Homo sapiens: one gene and its partners. The protein of the gene in region 5 interacts with the protein of the main gene of each other region in a biochemical or structural test. Each region holds a gene or a part of one and is shown on either strand. Other genes may lie near its edges.

Region 1 (4,180 bases), on a different chromosome or scaffold from region 5:
GCACTCCACCACAGACAGGATGGAGAGGAAGATGTGACAAAAGATGTGGTCAAAATTAGTTTTAATCAAGGAAGCATTTTGGAATGATCTGCTTAAAAAGTGGATATAATTACGCAGTTTGAGAAGATAATTCTCCTTAATTGAAATTACGGGGAATAAGTCTTGCTCTCAGGTGCTTATTGATACCGTTGATCATGCTGGTTCTTTTGCTGGCTCCACTCACAATTATCTTTGACAACTTGCCCCAAAGTAAACTTTCTCAACCAAAACCGTTCCCAACTTCTTTCCTCCTCACAGGGAAAGGCAAAAAAGTCCGCAGGCATAGAGAGTGGAAAGAAGGAACAGCATACTAGGCTGGTTTGAAAAACAATCAATTGCTAGGTAATAATGTCTTACCTTTTGAGTGGAAGGAGGAGCTGGGAAGAATTAAGTTCGGGCAGGTTTTTTGCTCATTTTGGATCAGCCCTTCATATTATGGCTTAATAGCTTTGTTTATAGTGTATTTTTCTGCTTTTACGTTCATCCTCTGAAGTCTTGAGTTAATTTTGTGCCCCTTTACCCCCATTTGAATTAAATGCTTCATTTTTTTCCCGTTTCTCACATAAAGCTATTTTTTTTTCAGGACAGGGAGGGGCTGGTGGTGGTGGTGGTGCTGTACCAGTTGTCTGTTTATGAGATCACCATTAGACAACGTTTCTCATTGGCTTGAATTATTTGAATTTTGTGTGATTTTCCTGTTATGTTGATTCTGTTCTTGGTGTCTATGAGTTCTGTAGAGGATTCCAGCCTAAATTTTCTTCCTTAGTTCTGTTTACTTTTCCTCGACTTTTGTGGTTTTGCTCTTTGATCACTGTCAAGATCTATTTGAGATTTTCTGACTTTCTTGAAGAGCAGAATGAGATCTAGATTTTCTCTTATTTTTAAAGAAGATTCTTCACTGACTTCCTTTCACTTTTTGTTCTGTGGAAGTCTTTCCTAGGTGTTAAGTTTCCAGGCTTTACCTCCCCCTACCCCCAACGTATTATCTTTAGGCATTTTGTTTGCCAATGCGTACTATATCCATTATTTATCTTTCCCTTGCACTTGTAGATTGGGTGGTGATAAAAATCTTCCATATTTCATTTTCCTGGAGAAGGCGGGTAGAGTCACTAGTGATGAATTTTATCTTCAATCTGTTGTATAATTTTCTTAAAGTATCTCGCCGTGTTGTGAGCTGTTCTCAGATTTCAAATTGTTTTGTGAACCTATAGCTTTGGAGCAGCCAAACCTTTGTTGTTAGAGCTTCTTAGCCCAGGCTATCATTATCATTGTGTGAGAAGGGGTTAGTGCTCTTTAAAAAGCCATTTTTCTTCTGGGTGGGAGTGGTGAATTTTAGATGGTTTTCTAATTCAGACTACTTTTCTGTTTGTCAAGGAGAGGAGAAGAGGACTTCAAATGTGGTGTTACATCTTTGGGATCCCTTAGCCTCTTCTCTTTCATGTCTCCTTTTTTTTCTTCTCTATTCTTTCTGCGAAGTTTTGTTAATCATTAATGCTAGCTTATTAATATTTGGGCCATAAACACCTCTGTAGTGACCAACACACCTCTTCCTGCCAGATGGAAGGAAAAAAAGTGTTGAGTTTTAATTGTTCTTCCTGTAAGGGGAAAGGTTCCCTTTCCATGGGAGGAACTCATCTCCACATGTCACCCTCTCAGATGGTACAGAATTCAGAAAGATTTCTCAGTTTCTTCCATTCATGTTTTTCTCGTTTTTATTACTCTCTATGTGGGATAAGTGGGAGGAACCTCATGTCTTTCAATTTGGCTCTGTGTTCTTCTTCTGGAATATATTGATTTTTAAATACTAAAATCTGTTATTGGCCTATTTCTTCCCCTTTTAAAAGCAGATACAGAAAATAATGATGGTAGAACAGACTTGGGATGAATCCAAGTTTATTATAATTTTTAGGAGACATTTATGATATACCTCTATAGGTATCAGAATCTTTTCTACTATTAAGGTGAAAAGATTTGAGATTTTGTGAAATCTTTTGTGTATTCTTTTTATTTGAGTTGGCTTTTAGGTGGCTTATTTTTCAACTCTGAAATGAACATAACATGTTACATATGTTACATATGTTACAATTTTTTTCTAAAGTGTAGTTGTTTAATTTCTACAAAGATAGTCCATATAAAGTTTCTAAAGATTGTAAATTTAAAAGGAAATGCCAAATGAATTATTTGTAAAATTGTTTAAAAAAATTAATAAATAATGAGTGTGTATTTAAAAGTTTGAACATGATATAAAACCATACTTTTATGGATAAAGATTAGTTTACAGTGAAGATTAAAACAATTATGCACTATTTTTGACAGTGGAAACAATTGCACATATTTGGGTTAACCACTAAAATGAGATTATTTGTGGGTGGTGTTTAAGATTGTTTATTGTTCAGGGAATGAATTATGACCCCTTAGATAAAATTTCATATGGTAAAAAATGACCTTAAGGTGAAATGCTTTTATAGGAACAAGACACAAAACCTTTGTCTGTACTTATGAAATATGGCAATTAAAATAACTTTTCTTGGCCTCTATTAAGTTCAAATGCCCAAGAAATAAACTCATAGAACATTATAAGCCCTTTCCATTTCTGTGCCCTGAGTCAGTTCTAACACTAGAAGGATGTTCTTTGTTTTAAAATAGTGATTAAGTAGGCTTTGAAAAAATTACAGTTTAATGAAGTCAGGTCATAGCTTCTGGATACAGATGGTCAGGTTTCAATTCCACCTGTGCAACTTTTGATTCCACCATTGCAAGTTGTTTAGTCTCTCTGGTTTTGTTTCCTCATCTGTAAAACAAAGACACTATTATTCTTCACCTCATTGAGTTACCTGGAGGAGATAGATGCTATTATTTTATCATTATTATTATCATATCCATTTGAAGGTGCTGAAATAAAATTCTAATTTTTTAAAGTTCTAAATGAAATAACTTTTTGTTACAAATTACTTTAAATCATCAAAACTTAGTGTATTATACTCTTCTTCTTGCCTGTGCCTAGTCTGGCCCTCTCAATTGAGAAGTCAGTCTTTTTTTTTTTTTCAGTAATCCACAGTGAGCAGCAGTCCCTGAACGAAATCATATTGCTAGTTGGGTTTGATTAATAAAACACAGAATTGGTATTCTAGTCCTTTCAGGGGGGTTTGCTTCCTTGTGATGTAAGAACCTTGTCTTAGTCTTTGTGCTGCTATAACAGAATGCCACAGACTGGGTAATTTATGTCAGGGTTCTGGGGGCTGGGAAGTCCATTATCAAGGGGTTGGCATCTAATGTCTTTCTGTTGCATCATCCCATGGTAGAAGGTGGAAGGGCAAGAGAGTGAGAGAAGAGAAGGAGGCCAAACTCCGTCTTTTATCTGGAACCCATTCTCCACTCCTGTGGTAATAGCATTAATCCATTCATGTGGGCAGAGCCCTCATGACCTTATCACCTCTTAAAAGTCCCACCTCTCATCACTGTTGCTTTGGGGATTAAGTTTCCAACACGTGAACCTTGGGGACACGTTCAAAGCATAGCAAACCTCAAAGCTTCCTCCTTATTTCTGTTTGTATTAGGTATGTTATTCCCTCCCCTCAATCTTTTTTTAAGGGTTTCTGTGATATCAGTGTTCAGAGCATTTGTATTTTGTCTACTATGTTTTTATGATATTAGTGTTCAGAGCATTTGTATTTTGTCTAACATTTACTACCTTAAATATTTTGTCAGTATAAAATATTTAAGGTTTTGCTGCTTTTATTACTTTATGAACACATTTGTCAGGAATCTGATTGTTAGAAAGCACATTAAATAGAATTCTACTTGGATGTGGAATCTATAAAGAGTATAATAAGGTTTTGATATTGAGGATGTCAGTGTATGAACAGCTATAACAATCCACATTAATCTATTTTCTGTAGTTGTGTTACTTCTAACTTTCAGACTTTATCCTTTCTTTCATATCTTGTGTCTTCCCTAAAGTGGATCCAGTCAGTTTTCTGGTTATAATTACAATTGAAAAAAAAAAAAAATTCAACCATAGTTACTTCTTTATTCAATTACGTTGTTATTGAGCGCTTCCTGTAACATTTGGTAATGATCATAACAAGTAACACCCAGGTACTTACAATTGGCCAGACATTGTTTTAAATGTTTTATGTGT
Region 2 (4,180 bases), on a different chromosome or scaffold from region 5:
GGCAGTGGCCTGCTGTTGGACAGACTTGGAGGATGGCCCTAGTGCATACCTGGCCCTGCTCTGTGTCCCGGGCCAGGATGGGGTAGCTAGGATGCCTGAGATGAGCTCCTTGTTCTCTAGAGGCTTTCAGCTGGGTTGACATCACTCCCTATAGAAAGCTTAGTGTCCCCTGAGCAGCACAAGCAGGAATCACGTTGGGAGCTCAGGAGGAAGAGAGCAGGGGAAGGTGGGAGAGACAGGGACTGCGACGCCGAGGAGAGGAGAGGACATGCCTGGGGACGTGAAGGGCAAGAGCAGAGACCTGCGGGGAGGGCCCAGGATATGGGGACAAATTGGATGGGAAATTGGGTTAAAGTGGAAGAGACATGAATACAAGGTAAGGTAAAGCTCAAGTTGGTGTGGGTTGGGGGAGTAATAGAAGGAGCATCTTTGATGCCTCTTAAGAGTTAGGGGCTTTGTCCTATAGTTCAACAAAGGACACCTTTTTTTTTTTGTTTGTGTGTTTAATTTTTTTATTTTTAAAAAATTATTGTTTGTGTTTTTGTTTTTGAGATAGGGTCTTGTTATGTCTCCCAGGCTGGAGTGCAGTGGTGCAGTCACAGCTTCCTGCAGCCTTGACCTCCCTGGCTCAAGCCATCTTCCTGCGTCAGCGGCTTAAGGTGCTGGGACCACAGGCGTGTGCCACCACCACACCTAGCTAATTTTTTATTTTTTGTAAGAGATGGGGTCTCACCATGTTGCCCAAGTTGGTCTTGAACTCCTGGGCTCAAGTCATTCTCACACCTCAGCCTCCCAAAAGGCTGGGATTACAGGCGTGAGCCACTGTGTGCAGCCAGAATTCCGTGTGTGTGTGTGTGTGTGTGTGTGTGTGTGTGTGTGTTTTGAGACAGAGGCTTGCTCTGTCGCCCAGGCTGCAGTGCAGTGAAACAATCTCGGCTCACTGCAACCTCTGCCTCCCGGGTTCAAGCAATTCTTCTGCCTCAGCCTCCCAGGTAGCTAGGATTACAGGTGTGCACCACTACGTCCAGCTAATTTTTGTATTTTTAGTAGAGATGGTGTTTCACCATGTTGCCCAGGCTGCTCTCGAACTCCTAAGCTCAAGTGATCCTCCTGCCTCAACCTCCCAAAGTGCGGGTATTACAGGTGTGAGCCACTGCGCCTGGCCCAGGACTCCTTTTGAATGTCAAAATATTTGAGGCAGCTGGGCACGGTGGCTCACGCCTGTAATCCCAGAGCTGAGGTGGGCAGATCACTTGAGTCCAGGAACTCAGGGCCAACCTGGGCTATTATATAGCGAGACCCCTTCTCTACAAAAACATGTATATATATATTTAAGGCATTCTGCTCTCCGTTTCTGCAACAGTCTTTCAGCTGTTGATTCAGAAAAAGATGGAGACACATTGGGACTTTAGAACCTCCTTGCAATAACTCTGCAGTCCCTCAGCAGCGCAGGAAGCATCAGTTAGGAGCCATTGGTAAAAGCATCAGGGGTCACTACCCACAGAGCTGTTTGGCATCTTGGCCAGCGACTGCACACAGGGTAGACTGCTGGTGAGGAGATGGGCCCAGGACAGTCCTTTAGAAGAGGAATTTCTTGGGTTCTCAGCTTTGCCCTTTTTTTTTCCAGGGGCATATGGGGGCCTCTCAGACCGCCCCTCGGCATCCATCTCCCCCAGCTCTGCCTCCATTGCCGCCTCCCATTTTGACTCGATGGAACTGCTTCCCCCAGAGTTGCCCCCCCGCATCCCCATTGAAGAGGGACCCCCAACAGGGACAGTTCATCCCCTCTCAGCCCCCTACCCTCCCTTGGACACTCCGGAAACAGCCACAGGTACCGGAGGTGTGAGTGTGCATGTCTCCAGGCCTGGGTGCCTACCTTCCTGACCACCTCTCCTGGGATCCCGAGGGAGCTGGCCCAGGGGAGTTGGGGACGCATGTGGGGAGCAGGCGCCTTGAGGGGAAGGCAAGGCTTTTTTCTCCCAGGATGGGGGAGGCTGCCCTGACACCCCGGTTTCCCTCCCTCTCTCCTTCCTGAAGGGTCCTTCCTGTTCCAGGGGGAGCCAGAGGGCGGTGAGGGGGACCAGCCCCTCTCAGGGTATCCTTGGTTCCACGGGATGCTCTCTCGGCTCAAGGCTGCACAGTTGGTGCTGACTGGCGGCACTGGCTCCCACGGTGTCTTCCTGGTGCGCCAGAGTGAGACAAGGCGGGGTGAATACGTCCTCACCTTCAACTTCCAGGGCAAGGCCAAGGTGAGCCACCCTGTGGGAAAGGCTCTGTTCTGTGCATAGTTGGCAGTGGGGTGGGGGAGCACTGCCGGGGGAGGGGGTTTGTACCTGGCAGGGCCTTTGCCTCCTACCTCACCTCCCCCATCCCGCCCTCAGCACCTGCGTTTGTCGCTGAACGAGGAGGGTCAGTGCCGGGTCCAGCACCTGTGGTTCCAGTCCATTTTCGATATGCTCGAGCACTTCCGGGTGCACCCCATCCCTTTGGAGTCGGGAGGCTCCAGTGATGTTGTCCTTGTCAGCTATGTCCCATCCTCCCAGCGACAGCAGGGTGAGCAGAGCAGGTCTGCAGGGGAGGAGGTGCCCGTGCACCCAAGAAGTGAGGTGTGTGTGCCAGAAAGATGGGGCGGGGAGGGGGGACTATCACAAGGAGAAGCTTTGCTTGGGAGAGCAGGGTAGAGGAGGCTGTTGTGCCTCGGGGTTTGGAAGGGAAAGAAATGCGCTGATAGGACACAGGAAGGCAGAAGGCTCCTGGCCGGAGCCGGGGCGGCAGCTGAGAGGTGGGCGGGCGCATCCCCATTCCATCGGATCCTCTGTTCCATTGTCTGTCTGTCTCCTGGACCCATCCTGGCCTCGTCTTTGCCCTCCGTCGCAGCCTGGCCTTGGGCCTGCCCTTCCCGGGGACACTCGGTCTGATCCCCTTCCCTCCTCCCTCAATGTCTCATGTCCCTGTCTGATCTCTCCCTTTCCCCTGCCCCACCGTCCCATCTGTCCCCACGTTGCCCCTCCCCCCAGGCCGGGAGCAGGCTGGGAGCCATGCGGGGGTGTGCGAGGGAGATGGATGCCACCCCGATGCCTCCTGCACCCTCATGCCCTTCGGAGCGAGTGACTGTGTGTAAGTGTGGTCCTCCTCTCACCACCGCCCATGATCCATCTTCCATGGATGGGGGGTTGCTCAGGAGATGGGATGTGGGGAGACAGCCACGCTCCTGGGGGGCTGAGTGAAGGGGAGGCCACGGCAGGAGCTCACCTGCCTCCACAATCAGTCTGTTTTCTTACCATTCCTATCCAGAACCGACCACCTCCCATGACCCACCCCAGCCCCCTGAACCCCCTTCATGGACAGATCCCCCACAGCCTGGGGCAGAAGAGGCGTCGAGGGCGCCAGAAGTGGCGGCAGCAGCAGCCGCAGCAGCCAAAGAGAGGCAAGAGAAAGAGAAAGCGGGCGGTGGAGGGGTCCCGGAAGAGCTGGTCCCCGTGGTTGAGCTGGTCCCCGTGGTTGAATTGGAAGAGGCCATAGCCCCAGGCTCAGAGGCCCAGGGCGCTGGGTCTGGTGGGGACGCGGGGGTGCCCCCAATGGTGCAGCTGCAGCAGTCACCACTAGGGGGTGATGGAGAGGAAGGGGGCCACCCCAGGGCCATTAACAACCAGTACTCCTTCGTGTGAGCCAACCCCACCCGCTCCACCCTTTTTAAACCCCCCAGCCCTGCTCGTGAGATTGGGCTGGGTAGGGACAGAGGAGGCCGAAATCCCTCCCCCATGCTTCCTGACCCTTGTTGGCCAAGGGCATCTTTGATGGTACAAGCAGAGGCTCGGGAGAGGCTCCCGTCACACACTACAGGTCCCCTCCCCAGGGCAGGGGATTTGGGCTCCATGAGCTCCTTGAGGGGCTCTTCTGGTCAGCCCCACCCTGGGGGCCATTTCCCCATTAACTACCCCCAGCCCGAGGCAGGGTGAGGGGGAAGGGCTGTCAGTTACATTAAGGTGGTTGTTGTTGTTGTTTTAAACAAAATGGAGAAGCATAAATAAATAAAAAGGTTTATCTCGGTTCTATCGTGATGGCTATGGCCATTGTTTGCTGTGGGGACTGGGGACAGTTGGGTTGGGAAGGCAGCCCACTCAGTGCCCACAGGCCAGAGGGCTGGCCCAGGCCAGTCCCCATCATTCTGCAGTGCTGT
Region 3 (4,180 bases), on a different chromosome or scaffold from region 5:
TGTGGGGGAGGCTGGGATGGAGGCTGGGGTGCCTGTGGAGCGGAAGAAGCTCTCTCTCCACTGTCTCTGGGAGTCCTCAGTGGATATAGGTCTCATGAGAGGGGCTGGACGTCCCCAGCTCAGGCCTTGCTGACCCTGTGGCCTTTAGCCTCAGAGACGAATCGACACCCTCAACTCAGATGGATACACCCCTGAGCCAGGTGAGCGGGCAGAGGTGGGGACGCGGGTTGGGGCTCATGCTGAGCCGAGATCAGGGTCGCTGTCAGGGCTGTGGGGTTTCACGGGGGGCGCTGTGGGCCGGGCCAGGCTGTGGCAGTTGGCTTGGTTAACACCTGTGCACACATGTGCCCACACCCATCACACCTGCCTGTGCACATGTACGTCCCAGTGTGTACTGACGTGCAGGGAGCACACTTGGCCTTGCCTGAGGCTCCCCAGACACACGTTTGTTGAGTACCTACTATGTGTCAGTCACGTTCCGAGGTCACTGTGTGTATGAGCCACCGAACCCTCCTGACATGCCTTATGAAGTGGCTATGGTGATTAACCTCACTTTACAGATGAGAGAGGGAGGGGTCTGTCTATGGGGATGTGAGGCAGTGGTAGAGGCGGGATGTGAACCCACGATGGGCCCCAGAGCTCACATTCCTAAAATGGTCTGCTGCGGGTGCTCCTGTTTCTCATGGGTGGGCCCAGACCTGAACATGTGTATGCACAGAGAAGACACATAGTTACATGTGCACCTAGAGGCTCGCTTTTGGAGGCCTCGTAAATGTGGCTGTGTGCTGCATACGCAGACAGGGACGGGCCCGGCCATAGGCGTACACGTACGAATGCACACACATGCACACCCCAGCTGGCACAGTAACGGTGCCACGTGGATACCAATGCACACGCCCCTAGAGTCCACCCTCATGTGGCTTCATGGGGCACCCACAGCTGTGGCCAGGAGTGTATGCCAGTGTGTGCGTGTGGATGTGCAGGAACACGCATGGGCACCCACCTGCTTGTGCATGCTCCAGGGACGGCACCCTTGTCTGGGGCAGGTGCTTGTGGGGGCTGAGGCTGCCTTGCTCCCCACACCCCTGCCCCTGACCTGGGAGTGTACCGCTGTGTGTGCCCAGCACGCATAACGTCCCCAGACAAACCGCGGCCGATGCCCATGGACACGAGCGTGTATGAGAGCCCCTACAGCGACCCAGAGGAGCTCAAGGACAAGAAGCTCTTCCTGAAGCGCGATAACCTCCTCATAGCTGACATTGAACTTGGCTGCGGCAACTTTGGCTCAGTGCGCCAGGGCGTGTACCGCATGCGCAAGTATGGCCGCCCCTGCCGTGGTGGGAGCACCGCCGCCTGGGGCAGAGGGGAGTGGCTTCACCGGGCTGTGGGACGGGAGCCGGGATGTCTGTCTCACAGCAGTTTGCCTGGGAAACAGACTCTGGGGCAGGACGTTGCACGCTGGAGGATTCCCTGAGAGAGCTCGGGACACCTGACGGGGGTGGGATGGGGCCTGGGCAGGGGGAGGCTGTGGAGCTGAAGTTCCCAACCCAGGGGAGCTGCAGTGGGGTCCCCGATCCCTGAGTCCACTGGCCCCTGACAGGCTGCCCCTGGGGAGGGTGTCACTTTGGATTCTTTTTGGCGATGGGCTGTTCCCGGTGAGCGATCCGGCTGTGAGCCGTCCTCAGCAGACGCTCCAGGCTGCAGGGACATTGAGCGCCTTGGTCCCAGCCTGGGTGGCGACTACAGTTGTCTACCACACAACTCAAGGGAGAAGAGAGATGGGTGGGTGGGGGTGTGGGGCCGAGCAGGGCCGGTGCCCCTCGCCCACGTGCCTCCCGTGGCCGGGTCGGGCAGGAAGCAGATCGACGTGGCCATCAAGGTGCTGAAGCAGGGCACGGAGAAGGCAGACACGGAAGAGATGATGCGCGAGGCGCAGATCATGCACCAGCTGGACAACCCCTACATCGTGCGGCTCATTGGCGTCTGCCAGGCCGAGGCCCTCATGCTGGTCATGGAGATGGCTGGGGGCGGGCCGCTGCACAAGTTCCTGGTCGGCAAGAGGTGAGCACCGGGTGGGCCCGGCCATCGGGTGGGTGGGGCCGGGGCCCATCCTGGGCATGGTGGACATGCACCCGCGTGCATGCGTGTGTGGGAAGCCGGGGCACTTCCACACCATCGTGGACACACTCTCAGCCTGCACACCCACACCCATACCCATGCCTGCAAAGCAGAGCTAACCCTCAGTCCACCATTGCACCAGTGCGGTAATAACAGTGTCTACCTCCAGGGCCTTTGCGAGGATCGAATGAGTCGGCACCTATAAAGGGCACTGCTAGGGCCGGGTGCGGTGGCTCATGCCTGTAATTCCAGCACTTTGGGAGGCCAAGGCGGGTGGATCATGAGGTCAAGAGATCCAGACCATCCTGGCCAACATGGTGAAACCCCGTCCTTACTAAAAATACAAAAGATTAGCTGGGCGTGGTGGTGGGCGCCTCCCAGCTACTCAGGAGGCTGAGGCAGGAGAATCGCTTGAACCCACGAGGCGGAGCTTGCAGTGAGCCGAGATTGTGCCACTGCACTCCAGCCTGGGGACAGAGCGAAACTCCATCTCAAAAAAATAAATAAATAAAAATAAATAAAGGGCACTGCTAGTAAGAGCTTTGTACACATCAGCTGCTCCCCAGACTCCCTGGGCCAAATTCATGGCCCCTGGGAAAGTGCCCATTGCCAGTTATCTGGAACCTGCCCTTTGTTTACGTGCTGCGTGGTTTTCTATTTTTAATTTTTTTTTTTTTAAAGAAACAAAAACGAAGATGTGACAGAGATCACTTGTGGCCTGTAAAGGCTAAAATCCTTACTATCCGGCCCTTTACTGAAAAGTTTTGCAGTTTCATTTGTGGTTCCTCATCCCCAAACTCTTACCCTCACAGACACAAGTTCTGCACTCCCCAAGGCACGTTTTTGCTGATCTGTGCCCTCTGGCTGGTGCACACACCTTCCCAGTGTGCCCCTGGCTCCCACATTCAGTCATTTGACAGGTGTTTATTGGACAGTTTCTCAGTGACAGGAACTGTTAGTAGCACTTGGGATTCATTAGCGAATAAACAAGGCAGAGATCCATGCTCTGTATTCTGGTTGGAGAAGAGAGACAGTAAGTAACAATCCTGATGAAATCTAGAGCATGTGGGAAGATAGTGTGGTGGGCACAAGCCTGCCGCAGCTCCAGGGGGTTGGGAGTGTTGGGGTGCGAGGTGCAGTGAGCAGGGAGGTTTGAACAAACTGAGGGAGGCCGCCATGCCCAGACGTGGGGAAGGGCATTCCAGGCAAAGGGCACCGCCTGTGCAGAGGCCCTGAGGTGGTCCCGTGCCTCGTGTGGTGCGGGCAGGGAGGGGATGAGCAGACCGTGCCAGGCCTTGCGGGCTGCCAGGAGGACTTGGAGTTTTACCCTGAGTTGGGTGGGAGCTAGGGGGTGCTGTGAGCAGAGGAGGGGGAGGACCTGACTCAGGGGCAGAGAGGACAAGACAGTGGGAGACAGGAGGGAGCGAGGGCCTGGGCGGAGCTGACTATTCCTGCCTGGGGGTCCAGGTGAGTGATGCTGCGGCTGCTTCCCGGTGGCAGAGGCAGAGATGAGGAGTGCGGTGGATTCTGGAGAGATTCTGACACCAGAACTGCCAGGGTTTGCTGATGGATTGGGTGTGAGAGAAAGAGGAGCTGCTGGAGAGGACAGTGGAGGAGCCATATGTGTGTGCACATGGGGATGGGGACAATCAGGCCACATTATCTTTGAGATGCCTGTGAGACCTCAGCACGTCGAGGGTGCAGGCATAGGTCTAGACTTGGGAGTCGTAGCGTGTGGGTGATCCCTAAAGCCTTGAGACTGGATGAAGGCAGGAGTTTTGCCTGTTTTGTTCACTGCTGTGTCCCCAGCCCCACGCCTGGCACACAGCAGGTGCTCAATAAGCGTTTTTGAACACATGGTCACCTGGCTCATGCCCAGCTGGGTCAGAGAAGCATGCTTTGCCCCTGGGAACTTGGCTAGTCTTCTCCCAGCTGACCCCGCCTTCCCCGCCACCCCAGGGAGGAGATCCCTGTGAGCAATGTGGCCGAGCTGCTGCACCAGGTGTCCATGGGGATGAAGTACCTGGAGGAGAAGAACTTTGTGCACCGTGACCTGGCGGCC
Region 4 (4,180 bases), on a different chromosome or scaffold from region 5:
AATTAGCCGGGCATGGTGGTGGGTGCCTGTAGTCCCAGCTACTCGGGAGGCTGAGGCAGGAGAATGGTGTGAACCCAGGAGGTGGAGCTTGCAGTGAGCCAAGATAGCGCCACTGCACTCCGGCCTGGGTGAAAGAGCGAGACTCCGTCTCAAGAAAAAAAAAGAAAATGTTAAGACATGTTCCTTTTTTTTTTTTTAAGATGACCATTGTTGGAGATTTGGCAGAGGGTGGTCAGTTATTTTAGAAAGGGCTCAAATGGTGATTGCCATTACCCACTGTCTTTAAAAGCTGAATGATCAAAATAGTATACATGAAAAGATTTCAGGAATTCATAAGTTTTCCGGTTTTCCTTGATGGCACTTTCCAGTCACCTACCCTACATATGAAAATGGGAGCCTATTTCTGTTTTCAGATTGCAGAGGGAATGGCATACATCGAGCGGAAGAACTACATTCACCGGGACCTGCGAGCAGCTAATGTTCTGGTCTCCGAGTCACTCATGTGCAAAATTGCAGATTTTGGCCTTGCTAGAGTAATTGAAGATAATGAGTACACAGCAAGGGAAGGTATGTTGCACTAATGATCTTTAGATGTTTTATTATTGTGTTTTATTTTGTTTTTGTCTGTTTTTGACAAAGCAATTACAATAGTCACCATTAAGAAAAACTTATTTGGTACAACATTTAAGCTGTACCATAATTGTCTGCTTATGGTTCTATTCTAATAGTTTCTAGAAGGTACTCTCTTGATTAACTCCACATGATACTTTTGTTAGGCTTACAAATGCTATCAGTTGTATTTCAATTAAGCAATGCAAAACACAAATAGATTCAGCAAGATGATTCTTGTTTATTTTGTATTGTTAAAGTTTTCACTCAAACAATGAATATAATATACGGGGCTGTGGAGAAAATATTTGTAACATTAATTCTATATTGTTTATTCCAGCCTTTTAATTACAAATTAAAACATGAACATTACCATACACACAGAACTAAATATAATGCAAAAAATCTACTTCTTTATTTTCCCACATTCTGTATTATATATATGAACCAAAAATGCACAGAGAGGCCTAAGTTCCCCAGCCTGTGGCACATTGTCAGGGGGCCAAGCATGGTCGGGACTGCAGGGCCTTTCTTGGGCTAGGATTGCCCACGTGGTTATGACTGAGGATTCTTATGCTCTCACCCACGAGAGCTGAGCAAATATTTTTGCAGTGCTCACTGTCTTCTGGAAGAGACAAGCACTTTCTTGAAATTCCTAAGCATTGTTGAACAAGGATTATTATTATTTTATTATTTTGAACCTGGGAGGTGAAGGTTGCAGTGAGCCGAGATCGCATCATTACATTCCAGCCTGGGTGACAAGAGTGAAACTCCGCCTCAAAAAAAGAAAAGAAAAGAAAGTATGGGGTCACATGTTCATGACTTTTTTGTTTAAGTTTAAATACCCAAGTAAGAACCACATATCTTCTTCCTTAGGTGCTAAGTTCCCTATTAAGTGGACGGCTCCAGAAGCAATCAACTTTGGATGTTTCACTATTAAGTCTGATGTGTGGTCCTTTGGAATCCTCCTATACGAAATTGTCACCTATGGGAAAATTCCCTACCCAGGTATGGTTTACTTAGCTATTTACAATCAAGCTGTATAAATGAGAAAAAGTCAGGTTGCATGAAGGCATTAAAAAGTAATAATTACTTCATCTACCCGATAGCAAAGAATAAGTGCTTTGAGCCAGAACTTGATTTTCACGGGCTGGGCATGGTGGCTCACGCCTGTAATCCCAGCACTTTGGGAGGCCGAGGCAGGTGGATCACCTGAGGTCGGGAGTTGGAGACCAGACTGACCAACATGGAGAAACCCCGTCTCTACTAAAATTACAAAATTAGCCAGGCATGGTGACGCATGCCTGTAATCCCAGCTACTCGGGAGGCTGAGACAGGAGAATTGCTTGAACCCGGGAGGTGGAGGTTGCAGTGAGCTGAGATCGCGCCATTCCACTCCAGCCTACACGACAGAGTGAGACTCCATCTCGAAACAAAAAAAAGACTTGATTTTTATTTTCACTATCTTTAGCATAAATTGTTCTAAGAGTGCTTAGACACTTCTTTGCCTCCTTATTTTGAGTGTGTGTTCTTGTTCTGCACTGATTAATTCCACCACATACTAGAATGTTCCGGGCATGGTTGTTGGTGTCGAGATGAGGATGGATAGACACAGGGGCTCCTCCAAGGCAGTCCCCCTGACTGGAAGGAGGAAACCCACATGGAGACAAGGATTTCCGATGCTTGGTTTTGTAATAAGTGCCCTGGAGTCTCTCTCTCTTCAAGAAATAACCACCTTTGTTTATCAGTGGGAGGCCCTTCTGCTCTTTAACATACTGGTATCAGTGAGGGCATCATTCAGTATTTATTTCCAGATTCCTAACACCTGAAGCCTGCAGAGCCAGATTCTGACCATCCCTCCATTTTTCCATGGTCTGTGCTGGCATGGTTAAGAAGAGGGATTTCGGCCAGGTGCAGTGGCTTACACCTGTAATCCCAGCACTTTGGGAGGCTGAGGTGGGTGAATCACGAGGTCAGGAGTTCGAGACCAGCCTGGCCAACATGGTGAAACCCCGTCATTACTAAAAATACAAAAAATTAGCTGGGCGTAGTGGTGGGCATCTGTAATCCCACCTACTTGGGAGGCTGAGGCAGGAGAATCACTTCAACCTGGGAAGCACAGGTTGCAGTGAGCCGAGACTGCACCCCTGCACTCTAGCCATGGCGACAGAGTGAGACTCTGTCTCAAAAAAAAAAAAAAAAAAAAAAAAAAAAGAGGGATTTCTCCCAGAGCCTTCATATTTTCATTTATGTTTGACTATTAACAAAATATTTGCATGAGGGGAATTTAAAATTAAATTTTTAATGTTTAAATCTTTCTCCTATTCAAAAAATATTTGAGTATGCTAGGCACTCTCAGCTGCTAGGATGCCATGGTATCTGCCCATGTCCTTGAGAGTGAATATTGTAGTGGGGAGAGACTGATGTTTATCAAACACACAGCCATCCTGTAGGGTGGTGAGAGTAGTGTGGAGCCTGCGTGGAGTGGCTTAGGGATTGGCGAGTACTCACAGAAGGGGGTGGGGAGCTGCTGGTTTTATTCCATGGTCCTGGCAGCAGCAGGGACTCACAGAGGGAGGGAGTCTTGGGCTCTCTGAGGTCTGCATGTCCCCATGGGGAGAGCAGCCAGAGCATGGGCTTGGCCAACAGGAGCAGGAGGCCAGCGTGGTTTGGGCCTCTGTGAGTATTTGATGGATGGATGGGTGAATGAATGAATGAATGAATGACGCACCTAGGCCATTTGATCTCTAGACAGTCGATGGATGAGAAAGAAGGCTATGTAGCTGGGGGTTAGAGTGGCTCAGGGAGAGACTTACTGGCCATGTAAGAGCAGCCCCTCTTACTCTGCTGAGATGCAAACCAGGGAAGGCTTTTGGACAGAGCAGCCACACAGTCTGCGTGCTCCCATCACTACTGTTTCATGTGGGGATGAGCCACAGAGAAACTGGGGCAGGGACCAGTTGGCAGCTGAAAGCCTTTGGGTGGTGTCTGCCTGCACAGTGGACCGGCTGTCCCAGGAAATCCCTTTAGTGCCAGCATTTCATCTTCCAGCTGCTCTAGACACTGAGATTAATGAATTAACATTGCTGCAAAATAGGAAAAATATTTCTAATCAGCCCCAGTGTCTGATGTTATATATCTCTATCTCCATCTATGCCTACATCTCTTTCTATAATCTGTCTGTAGAGAAAGATTATATAGTCAGATTATGTATATAATCTGACACCTGATAAACATACAATCTCATAAAAGAATGTTTTGTGATATGCGTGGTGTGCTGCATGTGATGTGCTACCATGGCCCCTGAGGCTTGGAGAAGGTGATTGGGCCCCTCGCTGGTGGCAAAGCTGCTCTGAGCCCCAGATCCATGTGCCTCCCAAGACCCCTCAGCCAATGTGCACAATGCCCAGGATTTGGAAATATTTGGGGTGAAAAATCATTTTTTGAAAAAAGAACTGGCTGGGCACGGCAGCTCACACGTGTAATCCTAGCACTTTGGGAGGCTGAGGCAGGTGGATCACCTGAGGTCAGGAGTTCGAGACCAGCCTGGCCAACATGGCAAAACCCCATC
Region 5 (4,180 bases):
AACCAACCAACAAACATAAAAAAACACTGTCTCAAATTGGTAATCTTCATTCTTGTCTAAACATTATATGTGCATGTGTGTATGTGTATGTATTTTTTCCACATGGTTAGCCCAAGACTCTAGATAATTTCAGTTATTAAATAAAAAATACTACTTGGCTACACTGCAAGGAAATTAACTAGCAAACCTTAAAGGCGAAACTGAGATGTCTCAGGTACCATGAAAGCCACATGGTTAGAGGCAAAGATGCAGAGCTCTGAGTAGAACCATTGCTCAAAGGACTTACCACTGTAAAGTTCCTTCCTGCTTCATGCACATTTATGACCATTCTCGGGACACTAACTGAATTCAGGTTTTTCCCAACACCTGTTATTGTGCTCCCACCACTGGCAAAGCAAAATAGAAAACTGACAATGTTGAGAGGTTCTTTCCACCAAGTACTGTAAGAGAGGGATTCAATTTAATCACCTGCACTGATTACAGGTCAGAGGCACAGTCAACATCAAATGGAAGTTCATGGGTAACTGTTCTTTGGAAACAACTTATTTAACTTGAAAATATTTTTAAAATGCATATTTCATAAGCTTAAGAAATGCATTTGTATTTTATTCACCGAATTACACAAAATAAATATTTCACCTCTGAAAAAAATACAAAGAAAACCGAACTTAACTATTGTTGCTAGACTGATAGAATTAACGGAAACAAGGCAGATTGAACTGGGTCCAATGAGATATCAATTCAAAGAGAGTCTGGCATAAAGAAAAGCTGTGTGTAAAGCAGGCAGGACAAAAACATATCTAGAGAATGGAAGAAAAAAGGTAATTCCACTTCTGGGCACTAAGGTTAGTATAGAATTGATATGTACATAATGTAAGTGCATGTATACTACAATGCCACATTAAACTATTTTGCTATACTCTGTTTAAATGTAATAGAACAGGATAAGATACTTCTTGGAATGAACTAGCATTGATAAGTCAAACTACACTCAGAACCTGAATATAGTTTTCTCTCCTGAATTGGAAAGAAGCCTTCAAAAGCAACATAACAGCATCAAAGCCAGAGATAAAACTGCAATTCCTCTTGACTATTCTACAGCAAAATCATCCTTGTATTCATTGTTTTCTTATACCCATCAGAAGCTTCTACTTACCTAATAAAAGATTTGGTTGGATGAATTTCATAGACAATGGGATCTTCACGGTAACTGAAGATGCTTGTCTCTCGGTTGGCTAAGTCAATTTTCAATTTAACAGCAAACTCAGTTGAAATGGTTTGGGCTGGGGTATAACATTCAAGAATACTGTTTGACACACTGAACAAAAAAAATTAAGGAAGTGAATTTTAGCTATTAGAGATACACATATTTTAGAATTATATCCACAAATCAAAAGGATATAACTCAATGGTTCCTAAGTGGGAATTTCCTGAGTGGAAGCCTTTTCTAGTGTAGGCTGTTTAATCTGACTGGATCTCAAACTTACCTTTGTTGTGGACAAGCTATCCTTGACTGGAAAACATTTGAGATTTGAAAAAAAAACCTTTAAAGTACTTTTGGTACTTGATTAAACTGAGCTCTTCCAACTCTAAGAAGCAGAAACATAACTGTCTTCCAGACCCAATTTTCCCCATTTCTTCCTTCCCCAGAGTGACTTAGTCTAATTACAAATCTTGATGAAAATGTTTATTTTAAATTATTATCAATGACCAGACTCTCACAGCTCATAGTATAGCTAAGATCCTAAGCTATAACAATAAAGAGGGTGGATGGGAAGACAAAACTGAAAAGTAGGATTGCTAAAAAACAAGAGAAAGGAAGAAAAATCAGCAAAAGGAGTAGATGAATTTTGGAAGGAGGAAGTTTTGTCAGTAGGAGAGTAAACAAATAAACATCTTGATTTTTCTTCTCCACACACACACACAAAACAATCTGCTTAATTTTTAAGGTACAGATATTAATTCAAATTGACAGATGCAACAAAAAATAAATTTACAACACCTTTTTAAAGTACATGTTTTTCCACCAATTGAAATGTGTCTAGAATTCCCACTGTTTAGGTAATTTCCAGTTAAAGTAAGTAAAGTGCCACCAGCCATAGGACCGTATTTCGGCGAAATACTTGTTATTACAGGATCCTGGAGGGGAGATAAAAACAAAACAAAGTAACTTGTTCATCTTATAATTTAAATAGATTAAGTAAAAATCAAACATGATAGGATAGAATCTTCCTTACCACATAGGAGAATGTACTGTATTGTGTTGTCCCGTGGCCATTTGAAATAATTATGGACATATTGAAATGCTTATTCATGGCAGGACCAACTGTGCATTTCAATCTGGAAAAAAAACCCAAAGTTTAATACATGACAAATCCAAGGAATTTTCTGGTTAGGTTGTTTTATAGGAAGTGACATTAACTCTAAATGGTGAGCTGACTGCTTTGAATAGCAAGCAGAGTTTCAAGATAAGCATTAAGGCCAAAAATTATATAATCCTATTTCTATACTATGATAAACTTAACTTTTATTTTTATGTAAAAAGAGACAGGATCTTGCTCTGTCACCCAGGCTGGAGGGCAGTGGCATAGTCATAGCTCACTGCAGCCTTGAACTCCTGGGCTCAAGGGATCCTCTGGACTCAGGAGTTGGAACTAGAGGTGCATGCCACGGCATCTGGTTAATTAAAAAAAAATTTTTTTTTTTTTTTGGTAGAGATGGAGTCTCACTACGTTGCCCAGGCTGGTCTTGAATTCCTGGGCTCAGGTGATCCTCCTGCCTTGGTCTGCCAAAGTGCTGGGATCACAGGCGTAAGCCACTGCACCCTGCTTATACTAAACTTTACATTAATGGTACTATAGCACTTATACAGACAAACAGGAAATATCAGACCTTATCCATAAAGACCTCACCAGTTGAATAGTGCATAATAATCTAAGTTTGGATAATATTAATATTTGGGGATAATCTTTGGTCCACTTCAGATGCATATGAAACAATGGGCTAACTACAAATAGGCCAATCTCTTCATTAAAGTATGTCAACAGGTACATTTCTGTGGTTATACTTGTACATGCTTATTTAAATTACTTAAATGATAATGAAATTGTGATGGCTTTCCATAGAATTATTTCTGAATGAATAATCATATAGTTCTGAGAAAATTTAAATACAATTTGATTTATTAAATAACTTTTTAAAGGAGAGAATGAATTATGCTTTACTTTTACAGGTCCTGATTTATATGCAATGATTAAGAGTTTTGGAGATTTTACAAGGGAGATTTCTAGAAAAAATTTGTTTTGCCATTCAGCTAACAAATATTACCTTCATTAGTGTTTTGGTCTCAGTAAAATGGATAGATTCGGACCTTTGTGTAACCCTGAAATGAATTCTATTAGATATAAAATAACCACCTGATAGAATGGGTTCAATCATAAAGATTCAACCATAAAACTTTAAATATTTGAGTGTTGTTATTATGTGATAATGAATAATTTCTGGATTCTCTGATGATTATGGAATTCAAAGCTTGTAGAAGGGTACATGTAGAATACAGTAGAACTAGCACGGGTCTTGGATCAGAAGATGATCAGAGCTGAGCTGAAGGCTTGTTCAGCTCTTACTCTCTGGATTACCTCTGTGAAGCCACACTTCATCTCTCTGAACTTCAGGTACCTCTTTTATATTATAGGAATGATACTGCTCCCTCCCAGGACCGTGGGGATGGTTCAGTGAGATACAGCCCATATATTGCAGTGCCAGTAAATATAAGCTGAATATAAATTTTAACTCATCTAAAAAAGTCTCAAACACGTGATTCAGCTGCCTCACTACATTTCTGAGGTTTAGAAAGTGAATTTAAAAGAGAGGATCCATGCTGAGCTGTTTACTGATTTCTGTAGAAAAAGCCTTTGGAGACTCTACATTTGAAGACTCCAAGGATGAAGTGATCCCAACTAGTGCTACTCTTGCAAATCTACTCAGACAACACCTGAAGACTTGTCGCATAAATGGTTGAGAAACTCCCATTTCTGGCCTCTTCTCTTCACCTAGGCCATGTCACCTTTCTCTCTCTTCAAATCCAATGAGTAAATGGGATTACAAGAACAAAACAGAACAGACCCACAAGGCATGTGACAGGCCAAGACCCTTTTTAATTCAAGAGATGAGCTTCTTG
Region 6 (4,180 bases), on a different chromosome or scaffold from region 5:
TGCCTTGACCTCCCAAAGTGTTAGGATTACAGGCGTGAGCCACCGTGCGCAGCTGGGTATTATTTTTAAAGGCATGGGTACAGAATGGGCCAGTGATTCTCAGCCTTTTCCGTTGAACCTGTTTTTAACTTGTCTTGGGTCCTCAGCTTGCATAGGCTTCCTGTGGTGCCATAGCTTGGGAGTTCCCTGGGGCCATAAGGAAGGGCTTGGCCAAGTCTACTGGTCACATTCTGTCAGGTTGGGCTTCAAGATGGACCTCCTTGGAATGCTTGCAAGAAACTAGTTTTTTTTCTCTTGAACAGCTAAACCTTTCAGGTTGACACAGCTGAAGGAGTGTGAGTTAGGAGAGTCGTTATAAGCTTGAGCTGTGGATCCTGGGTTGGGCCTTATTTACCTACCACTTACTGCTTGTGTAACTTTGGGCAAATTGTTTAACTTTTCCCTGCTTCAGTTTCCTCATCTGTGAAGGAGGGAAATAGTAATACTGATCTCATAGGGTTGTTGGAATGATACTCCATATTCAGTACTGGCATACTAAGTACTCCATAAGCATTTCATGTATACGAATCTTAATAACATAACTGAGGTGTGGGGGCTTTTGAAGCAAAATGGAAAACTTCTTATCTTTGAGAGGCTGTGGAATTCATGCTGTGGATGGTAGGAACTGGTGAAACAGTTTGTCTTGGGGAGTAGGTGCCTGGGTGGAGTGCATCCGTAAGTGTGAAAGGACCTCGGGTCCAGCACTTGGAAATAAGATGGTGCCTCCTGTTACCTGCTCATCCGACCTGTTGCGCTAGTGGGTGGAGGGGGGCATAAAACGTGCTTCATTTTGAAGGCGTGGGACAGAAGCTAGGGTGGTAATAGTTTGTGATACTCCCTCGAGGTAGTGAAGAGCTACATGCCAGGCTGGCAGCTGGGCCAAGCCACTTCTGGAGGTAGCGTGAGACTGCTGATGGCCCTGTTGCTCAGGCTGGTGTGCAGTGGCTCCGTCATAGCTCACTACAGCCTCACTGTATGACCCAGGCTGGGCTTGCACTCCTGGCCTCAACAGATGTCTCCCTAAAGATTGGTTAATCAGTTTTTAAAAATAGAGAAAAAAATAAAGAGATCCTCCTGCCTCAGCCTCCCAAAGTGCTGAGATTACAGGTGTGAGCCACCGCACCTGCCTGACCACAGAACTTTTGAGAAGCATCTTGAGATCCTGTGGAATTTTCTCTGGGAAACGGTCCAGTGGGCTCTGGATTTGAGGATGAATTGAAAATTGCTGAAGGAATTTGGAGAATTGGTTGCTTTTTATTGAGCACCTATAATGTACGAGCCACTTTTTCTTTTTTTTTTTTTTTTTTTTTTGAGATGGAGTCTTGCTCTCACCCAGGCTGGAGTGCAATGGCATATTCTCGGCTCACTGCAAGCTCTGCCTCCCAGGTTCAGGCAGTTCTCCTGCCTCAGCCTCCCCAGCAGCTGGGACTACAGGCGTGCACCACCATGCCCAGCTAATTTTTGCATTTTTAGTAGAGATGGGTTTCACCATGTTGATCAGGCTGGTCTTGAACTCCTGACCTCAGTGATTTGCCTGGCTCTGCCACCCAAAGTACTGGGATTACAGGCGTGAACCCCCACGCCCAGCCTCTAGCCACTTTAGGAACTTTATTTATTAGATAGGTATTTGACCCCATTTTGCAGAGTCGGGGGTGAGGCACACAGAAGTTAGGTAACTCAGACAGCTAGAAAATGAGAGCCACAATGCACCAAACCTGCAAAGGACCGTCCTCATACCCACCATCTTTAGAACATTCTATTTGCTTAGGAGACCATATATCTTCTCAGATGGAAACCAGTGGCCTTCTGTCGCCCAGGCTGGAGTGCAGTGGCGCGATCTCTGCTCACTGCAAGTTCCGCCTCCCGGGTTCAAGCGATTCTCCTGCCTCAGCCTCCCGAGCCAGTGGCCTTTTTAGCGTTTTGTATTGGTGGGTATTTATCTAAGCAACCCCTGTAAATACCACAGGCAGAGAAGGAAGGGAGGGAGCAAGAATTGAGGAAAAAAGGGAAAAGAGGGCCGGGTGTGGTGGCTCGCGCCTGTAATCCCAGCACTTTGGGAGGCTGAGGCTGGCTGATCACTTGAGGTCAGGAGTTCGAGACCAGCCTGGCCAACATGGCAAAACCCTGTCTTTCCTAAAAATACAAGAATTAGCCAGGTGTGGTGGTGGGCGCCTGTAATCCCAGCTACTCGAGAGGCTAAGGAAGGGAGAATTGCTTGAACCCAGGAGGCAGGAGGCAGAGGTTGCAGTGAGCTGAGATCGCACCACTGTACTCCAGCCTGGGCAACAGAGGGAGACTCCGTCTCAAAAAAAAAAAAAAAAAAAGGAAAAGAGAAAGTGCTGTGAGATCAAGGAGAGCCTGGCCCGCTCTTGTAGACCCGTCAGAAGTGATTGGGCCTATTTTAGCCCACAGAGCCCTCAGGTGTTCTTCATGAAACCTTCAGGGAGGGAGTGGCCTTGTAAAAATGGTCGTAACCTGAGGCTTGAAATGCTTGGAAGGCTTAGAAGTAACGGGCTGAGCAGGTACCGAGAAGCTGAAAGGATATCCTCTCCTTGCATTGATTTTGATTTCCGTTTGTGTGACTTCCTAACTCCACGTTCAGAATCCAGCACAGGGTGATGTAGAACAAGTCATTGAGGTTTTCCAAGTCCCAGATAGCTATGAGAATCCTGTCGTTGCTTCTGTTCTCTAGACTGGCTGACTGTGCCTCCTTCCTTTCCCGCCCTTCTATTTCCTGCCTTTGGCTGTTTGTGGTTGGAAGGAGAGGAAAGAGAGAAAAGGAGCCGGAACACACAGCCATGGTGAGGTTTGGGCTTATCTGGGACTTATGTGTGTTCTGTTCTCCTCCCTTCCTTCTGGAGTTTGGATCAATGAAGCTTGATGGCCCCCAGCAGTTCACAGAAACGGGCATTTCTCTGTGAAATTATTACAGTGTCAGAATAGAAAAATAATTTATAAGTAAAGTACATCAAAGGTTTTCCGTGGCGTTTTGCTTACGTTTCTGTGTCTATTGGGATTGCCAAACAAAAAGAAAGTCACGGCCGGGCGTGGTGGCTCACGCCTGTAATCCCAGCACTTTGGGAGGCCGAGGCGGGCGGATCACGAGGTCAGGAGATCGAGACCATCCTGGTTAACACGGTGAAACCCCGTCTCTACTAGAAATACAGAAAAAAAAACCCGGGCGTGGTGGCGGGCACCTGTAGTCCCAGCTGCTCGGGAGGCTGAGGCAGGAGAATGGCGTGAACCCAGGAAGCGGAGCTTGCAGTGAGCCGAGATGGCGCCACTGCAGTCCAGCCTAGGCGAAAGAGCGAGACTCCGCCTCAAAAAAAAAAAAAAAAAAAGTCATAGTGAGCCCAGTTCACGCTATTGTGGCATTTGACCAAGAAGAGAATTAAACCTGCTTCCTACCTTTGCGCCAGATGATCTGCCAAGTTTTCTCTCACTCATCTTTCAGAGCGACTTGGCTTAGTAGTCTCATTTGTTCTTTCCCCGCCAAAATGTATTTCGCTCGGCCTGCTATGGTAACAGTGGCTGGCAGGGGGTGGTTACCTTCCTTCTTCCAGTGGAGAGAGTACCTTGGAAGTGTTCACAGATGGTCGTAGTTGCTCATGGCGATTCTGTTGTATCTCAGGACACAGTGCGTTATTCCAACTGTCTTTAGCAGGAACATAGATCCAGGTGAAGGTGAAAGCCGGGTGGGAGGTTGTCTTCCTAAGACGTGCCGCTTTCTCCTTGTTCACCAGCCACACTGTGCTTGCTGTGTTATCTCCAACAATGCTGTGAACTTCTCTGAGCTTCTCCAGTCTAGGAAGGCATTGTGCTTAGCTTCTTTCCATCACTTCAGAGTTAGGCTTATTAAGATAATATCTGGCTGGGCGCGGTGGCTCATGCCTGTCATCCCAGTACTTTGGGAGGCCGAGGCAGGCAGATCACAAGGTCAAGAGATCAAGACCATCCTGGCCAACATGGTGAAACCCCATCTCTTCTAAAAATATAAAAATTAGCAACACTTAACTGAGCACTGACCTGCCAACCACTGTCCCAAAAGGACAACTAATAGAACACCTTGGCATGTAGTTGGGTAAACCTTAGCAAGGGAGCTTTTCTCCACCCAGCTGTGATCAGAACCATTTCTAAGCCA
Region 7 (4,180 bases), on a different chromosome or scaffold from region 5:
GACGGAGTCCTGCTCTGTCACTCAGGATGGAGTGCAGTGGGGCAATCTCGGATCACTGTACCCTCTGCATCCCAGGTTCAAGGGATTCTCCTGCCTCAGCCTCCTAAGTAGCTGGAATTACAGGTGCCTGCCACCATGCCTGGCTAATTTTTGTATTTTTAGCAGAGACAGGGTTTCACCATGTTGGCCAGGCTGATCTCCAACTCCTAACTTCAGTTAATCAGCCTGCTTTGGCCTCCCAAAGTGCTGGGATTACAGGGATGAGCCACCGCACCTGGCCAGTGTTTACCATTGAATTCTATCATCTGCTAAAAAATGAATCTCTTACAGGTTTTACTGCTGCAATTTAGTTTGTCTTTTCGAATCTCTTGATAATGCCAATTAATCTTTGGAGGCCTTGAATGTGGATACAGAACAATGTAATGATTTAGAGGAAACCTGGAGGGCTTATCATATAACTAAATGCAGTGATCTAGCTGTAATGTTCTTTTTCTCTTTTGAGTGTTAGAACTGTAACACCTTCACATTTTGCTACTTTTTGTCCTCTTGTTCATCTGTCAGGAACCATCACTTCTTGTTGAGCAAGACAAGACAAAATATCTTGTTGAGGCCGGGCGCGGTGGCTCACGTCTGTAATCCCAGCACTTTGGGAGGCTGAGGCATGCGGAGCCCCTGAGTCCAGGAGTTTGAGACCAGCCTGGCCGGCATGGTGAAACCCCATCTCTACTAAAGATATAAAAAAATGAGCCCACTGTGGTGGTGCATGCCTGTAGTCCCAGCTACCCGGGAGGCAGAGGCAGGAGAATGGCTTGAACCCCAGAGGCAGAGGTTACAGTGAGCCAAGATCATGCCATTCCACTCCGGCCTGGGTAACAGAGCAAGACTCTGTCTCAAAAAAAAAAAAATTTTATTTGTTCCGCTAGGCCTGATGGCTCACTCCTGTAATCCCAGCGCTTTGGGAGGCTGAGGTGGGCGGATAACTTGATCCCAGGAGTTCGAGACCAGCTTGGCCAACATGGTGAAACCCTGTCTCTACTAAATACAAAAATTAGCTGAGTGTGATGGCGAATGCCTGTAATCTCAGCTACTCAAGAGGTTGAGACAGGAGAATCACTTAAACCCGGGAGGCAGGGGTTGCGGGGTTGTGAGATCCCGCCACTGCACTTTAGCCTGGGTGACAGAGCGAGATTGTCTCAAAAGAAAAAAAAGAAAGAAAGAAAAATCATTTGTTCCATTTGGTGAGTTAGAGTGCTTTTATATGTTTGTTCTTCATGTTTATTTTTCCTCTTAACTCTAAAGTTTCTGTAACAGAAACCATGTATGGTTGCTTTCGTATTTTTCTTATGTGTACGTAACAATAGTTGAATGCTGTAAGACAGCATAGAAGACTATCAGGTAAAATCTCTCTGTGGAGGGAAAGGAATGCTTATTCTCTTGGTCTGTTTTTCATTTATTTTTTGGTTGTTAATAGTTGCTTTTTCTATTTGTTTAAATTATCAGTTAAAAAAACCTGTTAAAACACTGATTCTCTTGTTTCTATTCCTGAAATTGTAAGTAATGATTGCTGAATTGGACATGAATATGGTATGGATAATTTTTGCTTTTGTTCAAACAGCCAGTTGAATAAAACAAGCAGTGAAAATATGTGGAAATATTTAAAAGAATGGATGTTTCTCAAAAGTTTTTTTTTTTTTTTTTTTTTTAAAAGAATCATCCTGGCCCAGCGCAGTGGCTCATGCCTGTAATCCCATTGGGAGGCCGAGGCAGGTGGATCGCTTGAGGTCAGGAGTTCGAGACCAGCCTGGCCAACATGGTGAAACCCTGTCTCTACTAATAATACAAAATTTAGCTGGGCGTGGTGGTGCATGCCTGTAATCCCAGCTACTTGGGAGGCTGCTGCAGGAGAATCATTTGAACCCAGGAGCCAGAGGTTGCAGTGAGCCGAGATCATGCCACTGCACTCCAGCCTGGGTGACAAGGAGAGACTTAATCTCAAAAAAAAAAAAATTCATCCTTTTCTTCCAAAAATTTTAGCACGTATTTTCATATGTTAGTGTGTAGATCAATTCAAATAATAGATACAACAAATACTGTAATATGTTGTGTACCTTGTAATTATTCCAGCTGTATCGCAGAAATATTTTATAAATTTAATAGGGCTGGGCAGTTTTTTTTGGAAATGCTTGATCATTTGCAAGTACTACATGCTCTTGAATAATATATTTTCATTTTTAGAAACATTTAGAATATTTAGTGTACAACCCCTGTCTCCCAGTAATTCTGCTGCCCAAGGAAATCAGTTACTTTATTTTTTCTTTTCATTTCTTAGCTATAGTCTTTAAAAAAAAAAAAAAAAAAAAGGCCTGTGAGGTCTTGCATGATTTGGCTTTTGTCTACGTCTCACTTCATCTCTTGCTTTTGTCTCTTTCCTCTTTCAGCCTTGAATAGCTTAGCCCTTTTTTGCTTTGGTGTCTGTGATCATGCTCTTCCTCAGGGCAGATGGCTCCTTTAGGTTAATCAGCATTAAGTTTGGCTACTAGTATCAGACAGATGCCAAATATTAATTTCTCTCACACCAGAGAAATCCAGGGTTGGCATGGCATTCATTTATTAAATGTTATTTCCAGGTGTGTGTATGTGTTTTGCTATTGTAAATTCTGCAATAAAGATCTTTGTGTATAAGGCTTTACATTTTTTTTCCTTTTGATTAATTCCTGTTGTGGATCCAACTAAAAAGCTTACTAATTTTTTTTTAAAAAATTGTTTAGTCTGGGCATGGTGGCTTATGCTTGTAATCCTGCACTTTGGGAGGCTGAGGTGGGAGGATGCCTTGAGGGTAGGAGTTAGAGATCAGCCTGGGCAATATAGCAAGAGCCGGCCTTTACAAAAGTAAAAAAAAAAAATTAGCCAGGTTTGGCTGTGAGCGTCTGTAGTCCTAGCTACTTGCAAGGCTGGCGGGAGGATTGCTTGAGTCCAAGAGGTCGAGGCTGCAGTGAGCTATGATCGCGCCACTGTACTCTAGCTTGGGGGACAGAGCGAGACGCTGTCTAAAAAAAACAAAATTAAAAATTTGTTTAGAGAAAGTATCTTTAAATGTTTATTGAAAACTGCACAAATTTAAATGTATAGAATGTTTATATTTGTAGATATCTGTGTAGTCATCACTCAAATCCAGATGTGGAACATTTTTAGTGTTCGAAAAGGCTCTCTTGCGCCCCCTCCAATCAGTGTCTCTTTCCCTCTCAAAGGTAATCACTATTCTGTCCTCTATCGCCATAAACTATTTTTGCCTGTTTTTGAACTTTATATAAATGTAACTGATATGGTTTGGCTGTGTCCCCACTCAAATCTCATCTTGAATTGTTACTCCCACAATTCCCACGTGTGGTTGGCAGAACCTGGTGGGAGGTAATTGAACCATGGGGGTGGGCCTTTCTCGTGCTGTTCTTGTGATAGTGAATAGGTCTTGTGGGATCTGATGGTTTTAAAAACGGGAGTTTCCCTGCACAAACTCTCTTCTCTTATCTGCCGCCATGTGAGAAGACATGCCTTTAACCTTGTGCCATGATTGTGAGGCCTCTCCTGCCATGTGGAACTGTAAGCCCATTAAACCTCTTTATTTTGTAAATTGCCCAGTCTCAGGTATGTCTTTATCAGCAGCATGAAAACAGATTAATACAGTAAATTGGTACCAGTAGAGTAGAGTGCTCCTGAAAAGATACCCGAAAATGTGGAAGCAACTTTGGAACTGGGTAACAGGCAGAGGTTGGAACAGTTTGAAGGGATCAGAAGAGGACAGGAAAATGTGGGAAAGTTTGGAACTTTCTAGACTTGTTGAATGACTTTGCCCAAAATGCTGATTGCGATATGGACCATAAAGTCCAGGCTGAGGTGGTTTCAGATGGAGATGGGGAACTTGTTGGGAACTGGAGCAAAGGTGACTCTTGTTATGTTTTAGCAAAGAAACTGGCAACATTTTGCCCCTGCCCTAGAGATCTGTGGAACTTTGAACTTGGGAGAGATGATTTAGGGTGTCTGGTAGAAAAAATTTCTAAGCAGCAAAGCATTCAAGAAGTGACTTGGGTGCTGTTAAAGGCATTCAGTTTTACAAGGGAGGCAGAGCATAAGTTTGGAAAATTTGCAGCTTGACAGCGTGATAGAAAAGAAAATCCCCTTTTCT

What was found.
Region 1: the proteins of MET (region 5) and ITGB1 interact in far-western blotting, tested with the Homo sapiens proteins (one study listed by BioGRID).
Region 2: the proteins of MET (region 5) and SH2B1 form a complex in vitro, tested with the Homo sapiens proteins (one large-scale study listed by BioGRID and IntAct).
Region 3: the proteins of MET (region 5) and ZAP70 form a complex in vitro, tested with the Homo sapiens proteins (one large-scale study listed by BioGRID and IntAct).
Region 4: the proteins of MET (region 5) and LYN form a complex in vitro, tested with the Homo sapiens proteins (one large-scale study listed by BioGRID and IntAct).
Region 6: the proteins of MET (region 5) and CRK form a complex in vitro, tested with the Homo sapiens proteins (one large-scale study listed by BioGRID and IntAct).
Region 7: the proteins of MET (region 5) and NCK1 form a complex in vitro, tested with the Homo sapiens proteins (one large-scale study listed by BioGRID and IntAct).

Annotation. Positions count from the first base shown.
Region 1 is NC_000010.11:32,947,876-32,952,055, reverse strand, and holds part of ITGB1 (integrin beta-1 isoform 1A precursor), read left to right. Parts: intron 1-4,180.
Region 2 is NC_000016.10:28,870,153-28,874,332, forward strand, and holds the end of SH2B1 (SH2B adapter protein 1), read left to right. Parts: intron 1-1,627; coding exon 1,628-1,831; intron 1,832-2,037; coding exon 2,038-2,249; intron 2,250-2,381; coding exon 2,382-2,553; coding exon of another isoform or gene 2,554-2,606; intron 2,607-3,017; coding exon of another isoform or gene 3,018-3,117; intron 3,118-3,294; coding exon 3,295-3,668; 3' UTR 3,669-4,053; downstream 4,054-4,180. UniProt on the Homo sapiens protein: Adapter protein for several members of the tyrosine kinase receptor family.
Region 3 is NC_000002.12:97,733,396-97,737,575, forward strand, and holds part of ZAP70 (tyrosine-protein kinase ZAP-70), read left to right. Parts: exon of another isoform or gene 1-148; coding exon 149-200; exon of another isoform or gene 201-1,124; coding exon 1,125-1,317; intron 1,318-1,854; coding exon 1,855-2,061; intron 2,062-4,077; coding exon 4,078-4,180. UniProt on the Homo sapiens protein: Tyrosine kinase that plays an essential role in regulation of the adaptive immune response. Regulates motility, adhesion and cytokine expression of mature T-cells, as well as thymocyte development.
Region 4 is NC_000008.11:55,997,933-56,002,112, forward strand, and holds part of LYN (tyrosine-protein kinase Lyn), read left to right. Parts: intron 1-413; coding exon 414-567; intron 568-1,485; coding exon 1,486-1,617; intron 1,618-4,180. UniProt on the Homo sapiens protein: Non-receptor tyrosine-protein kinase that transmits signals from cell surface receptors and plays an important role in the regulation of innate and adaptive immune responses, hematopoiesis, responses to growth factors and cytokines, integrin signaling, but also responses to DNA damage and genotoxic agents.
Region 5 is NC_000007.14:116,755,597-116,759,776, reverse strand, and holds part of MET (hepatocyte growth factor receptor isoform b preproprotein), read right to left. Parts: intron 2,341-4,180; coding exon 2,238-2,340; intron 2,140-2,237; coding exon 2,003-2,139; intron 1,319-2,002; coding exon 1,157-1,318; intron 441-1,156; coding exon of another isoform or gene 387-440; coding exon 287-386; intron 1-286. UniProt on the Homo sapiens protein: Receptor tyrosine kinase that transduces signals from the extracellular matrix into the cytoplasm by binding to hepatocyte growth factor/HGF ligand. Regulates many physiological processes including proliferation, scattering, morphogenesis and survival.
Region 6 is NC_000017.11:1,445,791-1,449,970, reverse strand, and holds part of CRK (adapter molecule crk), read left to right. Parts: intron 1-4,180. UniProt on the Homo sapiens protein: Involved in cell branching and adhesion mediated by BCAR1-CRK-RAPGEF1 signaling and activation of RAP1.
Region 7 is NC_000003.12:136,868,348-136,872,527, forward strand, and holds part of NCK1 (SH2/SH3 adapter protein NCK1), read left to right. Parts: intron 1-4,180. UniProt on the Homo sapiens protein: Adapter protein which associates with tyrosine-phosphorylated growth factor receptors, such as KDR and PDGFRB, or their cellular substrates. Maintains low levels of EIF2S1 phosphorylation by promoting its dephosphorylation by PP1.